Linked DNA regions of Homo sapiens. The protein of the gene in region 1 interacts with the protein of each later gene in a pairwise test. Each region holds a gene or a part of one and is shown in the gene's direction. Other genes may lie near its edges.

Evidence for each region.
Region 2: the proteins of ZFP64 (region 1) and BEGAIN interact in a two-hybrid assay, tested with the Homo sapiens proteins (one large-scale study listed by BioGRID and IntAct).

What each region holds. Positions count from the first base shown.
Region 1 is NC_000020.11:52,185,280-52,188,779, reverse strand, and holds part of ZFP64 (zinc finger protein 64), read left to right. Parts: intron 1-1,708; coding exon 1,709-1,948; intron 1,949-3,500. UniProt on the Homo sapiens protein: May be involved in the regulation of mesenchymal cell differentiation through transactivation of NOTCH1 target genes.
Region 2 is NC_000014.9:100,580,918-100,584,417, reverse strand, and holds part of BEGAIN (brain-enriched guanylate kinase-associated protein), read left to right. Parts: intron 1-3,500. UniProt on the Homo sapiens protein: May sustain the structure of the postsynaptic density (PSD).

The sequences.
Region 1 (3,500 bases):
AGGATGGTCTCGCTCTCCTGACCTCATGATCTACCCGCTATGTCTTTATTGAACAAGTATTTATATAGTAGCTTCTAATACAGTGCCAAATACTACACTAAGTGCTTTCCAGGTATTAATATAGTATTAATTCTTGATATGATTAGTATCAAGAAATAATGTCGGCCGGGTGCGGTGGCTCACTCCTGTAATCCCAGGGAGGGATTTGGGAGGCTGAGGCGGGCAGATCACGAGGTCAGGAGATCGAGACCATCCTGGCTAACAGGTGAGACCTCATCTCTACTAAAAATACAAAAAATTAGTCGAGCGTAGTGGCGGGTGCCTGTAGTCCCAGCTACTTGGGAGGCTGGGGCAGGAGAATGGCGTGAACCCGGGAGGCAGAGCTTGCAGTGAGCCGAGATCGCACCACTGCACTCCAACCTGGGTGACAGAGCAAGACTCTGTCTCAAAAAAAAAAAAAAAAAAAAAAAAGAAAGAAAAAGAAATAATGTCCCTGCCAGTTAGGAATGAATTTTGGCTACAAGTAGCAGAAACCCAAATTATACTGGCCTAATGAAATCTGGAATTGATTGATTGCAGTGTTGAATCAGGGAAATCAGTGAAGTAAAGGGCAGAGCCCATAGGGATCTTGGCATTTTTCTCATAGTTACAAGATGGCTGCAGAAGCCCCACCATCACATTTGCATCCAAAGCCAGAAGAAAAGGGGCACATTGCTAGCCACATCTGCTCCCTTTTCATCACAAATGCCAAACTTTTCCCAGAAACTCCTCCAGCTGTGTGCTGGAGAAGTTCACAAGTATGTAGAGGACCAAGATTATTTAGACTATTGGTTCTCATAGTATGTGTTTTGGGTGAGTATGTTTGGAAATGTGCGGGAGGATCAGTTTTCACAATTACCTTTTAGTTGGGATAGGAGGTGGCTGCTGGTTCTGCAAAGTGCAGGACATCCCTTTTATCTTTGATAAAAGAACTTTCTTGCAAACAATGCCACTAGTGCCCCATGGGTAACAATGCAGCGTGAACCATCACATGGATGGTTGCTATACATTATTTCCAATTTTCCCCAAGTTAAATAATACAAGACTACCTTTGTGCATATGTGGTTGGATAAAATTATGCATCATAATTTTCTGAAAAAAAAAATTATTTTTTTTTTGAGACAGAGTTTCACTCTTGTCCCCCAGGCTGGAGTGCAATGGTGTGATCTCAGCTCACTGCAACCTCTGCCTGCTGGGTTCAAGTGATTCTCCTGCCTCAGCCTCCTGAGTAGCTAGGATTATAGGCACACACCACCATGCCCAGCTAATTTTTGTATTTTTAGTAGAGACGGGATTTCACCATGTTGGCCAGGCTGGTCTCGAACTCCTGACCTCAGGTGATCCGCCCGCCTCAGCCTCCCAAAGTGCCAGGATTACAGGCATGAGCCACCGCGCCTGGCCAATTTTCTGAAGATTTCTAAGATATTTACATTATGTCCAATTTTCCCCAAGTTTAACTAAGGCAAGAAATCTCTGTGTGGAAATATGATACCTTGCTGCTAGGGCACAATTAGGATGCAGTTCGCAGGAAGAGGAAGGTGGAGTGGATACTGGGCCACTACCCAGCCATGTCTGCCACCATGCCTTTTCTTCCTACCATGAATCTGGTCTGCATTACAATTCAAAGCTGTTTGGAATTAATCCGTTACTTTCCCTTTGTCCCATGGAGTTCCAGGTGGCACAACGGTGCTGGTGGAGCTGACTCCCGACATCCATATCTGCGGCATCTGCAAGCAGCAGTTTAACAACCTGGATGCCTTTGTAGCTCACAAGCAAAGTGGCTGCCAGCTGACAGGCACATCCGCAGCAGCCCCCAGCACGGTCCAGTTTGTATCGGAGGAAACAGTGCCTGCCACCCAGACTCAGACCACCACCAGAACCATCACCTCGGAGACCCAGACAATCACAGGTACAGCTGGAGCATGGGGGAGTCGGCCAGAATTGGCCTGGCTGTGTCTCAAACACGTCCATGGAACTTGTTAAAAATATAGATTCCCAGAGCCCACCCCCTAGGGTTGCTGATTCATTATTTTTAACAAGCTCCACCAGGAAGCCAGCTGCCCAGCCAGGTTTGGGAGCTGCTAGGTTAAAACATTAACTGTTAGCAGTTATAAATGTTGTCACGTTACAAAAAAAACAGACAAAAAAGAGATTTCTGAAACAAAAATCTATATACTATAGGAAAAAAAAAAGGCTGGCAGAAAATACGTTGCAATAAAAAAAAAAGTGGTTGTTTTGGGTGGTGGAAGTATGGGTACAATCCTTGAGTTTGCATTACTTGTGTAAAGGGCCAAAAAGCATGTTGTTGTTAAAAAAAAAAAATCTATAAACTGGCATTGGTATCTCCTCCCCCTTGTGCTGCTGATCAGGAAAACATCCCTGTTCTCTGTTGTGTACACTCATTCCACCAAAAATAAATTACAGATGGGTCAAAAATTTAAATGTGCATAAGAAAACCATAAAAGTTCTGGAGGAAATGTACCCACAAACACCTACACACACAGTTATACCCCTGTCTTAAGGGGCAGGAAGATAACTTTAAAATTATGAAGTAGCCCATTTATGGGATAGTACTGGATCCTGTAGGGAAACAGAGAATGTATTCCTTAGCTAAAGGCATTTGATTCTAAAAAATATATTAATATGCCTACCAAAGGAGGCAGGTTGTGGACCACCCCCTCCAAGAAAAAGAATCATATATGTGATTGCAAATGAAGTTTTACTTTTTCCGAAGTAAAATGCAAAATCTAAAGACAATCAACTTGGGGAAAAATTTGTGGCATATATGATTAAGGCCTAAATCCCTCTTATACAAAGAACTGCTAAAACCAGTAAAAGGAGATAAAAAGTGCAAAGTGGAGCCTGGACACGGTGGCTCATGCCTGTAATCCCAGCACTTTGGGAGGCTAAGGCGGGTGGATCACCTGAGGTCAGGAGTTCTACACCAGCCTGGTCAACATGGTAAAACCCTGTCTCTACTAAAAATACAAAAATTAGCCGGGCGTGGTGGCAGGCGCCTGTAATCCCAGCTACTCGGGGGACCAAGGCAGGAGAATCGCTTGAACCCAGGAGGCAGAGGTTGCATTGAGCCGAGATCGTGCCATCGCACTCCAGCCTTGGGGACAAGAGCCAGACTTCGTCTCAAAAAAAAAAAAAAAAAAGTGCAAAGTGGAAAGGTCAGTGGATGATTTACAGGGGAGGTTTGGTCACCTTAGTAATTACAAAAATGTAAATCAAAACAAGGCTTGAGGAAGGACACTGATTTCATTTTCTGGGGATATAAATTCTTATAACCAGGGCAATTTTGTGATAGCTTTCAAATCTTAAATTTAAAATTTCTTAGTTTTAAAATATACATAAAGACATTTATCCAATAAGTCTACAGCTAGGTATTCATTCTATAAAACTTCATGAACAGGCCAGGCACGGTGGCTCATGCCTGTAATCCCAGCACTTTCGGA
Region 2 (3,500 bases), on another chromosome or scaffold:
GTCAGGAGCTGCTGGGGCTCTTCTCTCCCCTCTAGCCAGGAAGGGAACTCAAAAGTGGCCCTTGCCTCAGCAGGCCTTGAGTCTGGAGGACAGTACAGCAGCCTCTGTGGTCTGCCTGGGGTGGGGATCAGCCAGGGCCCAGCTCTGAGCCAAGCAGGGGAATTGCAGTCATTGGTTCAATCAGCAAGCCCTGAGCCCAAGTCAGGGATGGAGATGGGTCAGGCCTGGGCTTTGCCTGGGGAAGCCAGACATGGAAGCCTGGTCATCCCACAGTGGGTGCATGCTGGGATTAAGAGGTGCATGAGGTGGAGAAGCAACGCAGGCATGCTGAAGGGGATGCATGGGTGGATGATACTGTATGGAAGGGAAGCACTAGCAGGATAGAGCAGCGGATGGATGGGTAGAAACCTAGAGGGATAGGCTGGGCGCAGCGGCTCACGCCTGTAATCCCAGCACTTTGGGAGGCCAAGGTGAGTGGACCACCTGAGGTCAGGAGTTCAAGACCAGCCTGACCAATATGGTGAAACCCCGTCTCTATAAAAATACAAAAAAAATTAGGTGGGTGTGGTGGTGTGCACCTGTAGTTCCAGCCATTTGGGAGGCTGAGACAGGAGAATTGCTTGAACCCAGGAGGCAGAGGTGAGGTTGCAGTGAGCCGAGATCGTGCCACTACACTCCAGCCCCTGGGCAACAGAGTGAGACTCCATCAAAAAAAAAAAAAAAAAGGAAGAAAAACGAAAGAGAGAGAGAGAAAGAAAGAAAAAAAGAAAAGAAAGAAAGAAAGAGAGAAAGAGGGATAGATGGACGGGAGGAGAGGTTGATGGATGTAAGTAGCAAGATAGGGATGGGTGGGTGGACAGATGGAAAAGTTGATATGGATACAGGACTGGATTGATAGAACAAAATATCAATGGATGATACATGGGTGGAGGGAGGGAGACTTCTGATACACAAGGCAAGATTGGTAGATGAATGGATGGAAGGATCTTTGGATGGATGGATGAAGGAATGGATACATAAATGGATACAGGTAGTGCCTGGATGTTGGGATGGGTGGATGAATACTTGAATACATGTCCATGAATGATGGACAGAGGAATGAATGGACACTGGAAGAGTGAGTGCATGGATAGGTGATGAGTGTATATTGACGGATGTGTGGATAGAGGCCTGAGAAGGCAGCTCAGTGCACAAATGGATACAAAGCAATGGATGCATGGATACGAGACACAAGTAACAGAGGAATGGACAGACATGGAGGGATGGGCAGGCGGACAGATGGAGACGGGAGTGAGAGGACCAGTGAACAGATGAGTGCCCATCAGCGGGTGAGGGACACAGAGACAGAAGGATGTGTTGGTGCGTGGATGGCACCTGTAAATGGGTGAGCGGTCACAGGGGTGGATGGTGAAGGACGGTTGGTTGAATGGGTGAAGCTTCAGGTCACTCATGCCTTGATTTCCCAGATGCCAGTGTTTTGCTCACAGACCCCCATGTCCCTCTGCTTCAGAGACATATACTACGCAGGCGCAGGGTCAGGAGGGGGCTGATCAGACAGGGAGACTTAACCCCACCTTGACTTTGGTGGGAGAAAAGCCAACCCAAACTAACAGCTATTTGGCCTTTCCAGGCCCGCTTTGCCCTGGAAGACCCACTCAGGAAATAAGGAAGAAGCAGTGAGACCTCTTCGAAAGGTCAGCGGCCAGCCGGGGTTCCTACAGGGGCGTCCTTGCCCAGGGATCTCCCTGGAAGACCTGGACAGCTGTGTACATGTCCTATCTGAGGAAGAGAACTGGGGCACCTGTGTTGGGTGCTGGGGACTGGGAGACATCAAGACCATGGCTGCCCTTGGAGATTCTGAGGCCAGCGTGGAAAATCCAGGGACAGCGGGGCAGGTGATTAGGAGCACAAGTGTGCGGATTCCCAGAGCCTCAGTGTCCTCAACTGCAAAAGGGGAATAATAATAGACACTTCTGACTGGGCGCGGTGGCTCACGCCTGTAATCCCAGCACTTTGGGAGGCCGAGGTGGGCCGATCACGAGGTCAGGAGATCAAGACCATCCCGGCCAACATGGAGAAACCCCATCTCTACTAAAAATACAAAAATTAGCTGGGCATGGTGGTGCGTGCCTGTAATCCCAGCTACTTGGGAGGCTGAGGCAGGAGAATCGCTTAAACCGGGGAGTCAGAGGTTGCAGTGAGCCGAGATCGCGCCACTGCACTCTAGCCTGGCAGCAGAGCGAGACCTGTCTCAAAAACAAAAGAGAAAAAAGAAAGAAAGGAAAAAAAATAAACTTCTGTGCTGGGACGAGGGGAAGGTTGGTGAAGGTGACCACACCTCTGCTGGCCTATGCTGCGGCCCCTGGCGCATGCCCGCACCATGGGGGTTTACCCGAGACCCCTCAGAGCCCAGTTTCCTCCTCCGTGAAGCGGGGTAGCTGCTCCTAGCTTTCAGGCCTGCTGTAAGAATGAAGCGAGGTGACGTTTGGCACTGTCAGCAGAAGCCCGGCATGCCTGCCCACTCGGCAGGGTCCTCCCAACATCCTGTGGCCTGGTCTTCCTGCTCCAATCCCAGCAGACAGTGGGCAGCCTCATGCCCCTTCTGTCCGAGCTGGCAGGGGCCAGCTTTCCAACCACAGGGGCAGTGTGTGCCAGGCAGCAGGAGAGGGGCTTGGGCATCTGGAGAGGAAACGGGTGTGAGTGCCTGACCTTTGGGGTTCTGTCCTGGGCCTGACATGCCCAAGCCATGTGACCTCCGACGGGTCACTGCACCTTTCTGAGACCCTGCTTCTTTTAGCAGAAAATAGAGCCTTTGGCTGTCCTGATGCACAGAGGCGGGTGGGGATTTGGGGTGATGACGCATGCACAGCACGGAGCTTGGCACGCAGGATGGGCTTGGGAAGCAGGACTGAATCAGATGAGTCAAGAGGCAGGGGCTGCGGTGCCAGGAGCCGGAAGCCCCTCCAGGAGAGGTTGTCCAGGCTGCTGGTAGGTGAGCAGGTCCAGGCCGTGAGCCCACGGTAGCCGGCAGCATCCTTAGAGCCTCAGGCCCAGGCGCCTGAGAGCCAGCAGGTTGTTATGACAACGGAAACTTGCCTGATGCAGCCTGAAACTCTGGAAGCAGCTCAGAGGACTGGTTGGCCAGAGCCCCCAGAACACTCCTGCAACCATGCGTGCTAGTGAAACGGCCACATCAGAGCCCCAGTGCTAATGAGTCCTGAAGTCCCTTGCTCATGCCACTTCCCAGCACTGCCATGGGCTGAGTACTGCCCCATGCCCACCTGACAGATGAGGAGGGGATGTGGCTTGCCCGCAGGCCTGTTGGAGTGTTGGAGAAGGGATTTGAACTTGGATCTGCCAGCCTCCAAGTCTCTTTCCCACTGGTAATAGGGCAGGGGCTGAACGGCTGCTGCTGGGGAAGGGCTGTCCGGGTGTAGAGGGGCGACTGTCGGGGACCATAGGGTGGGAGGAGGACACTGTGGCCTCCCGAGAGCCTGAGA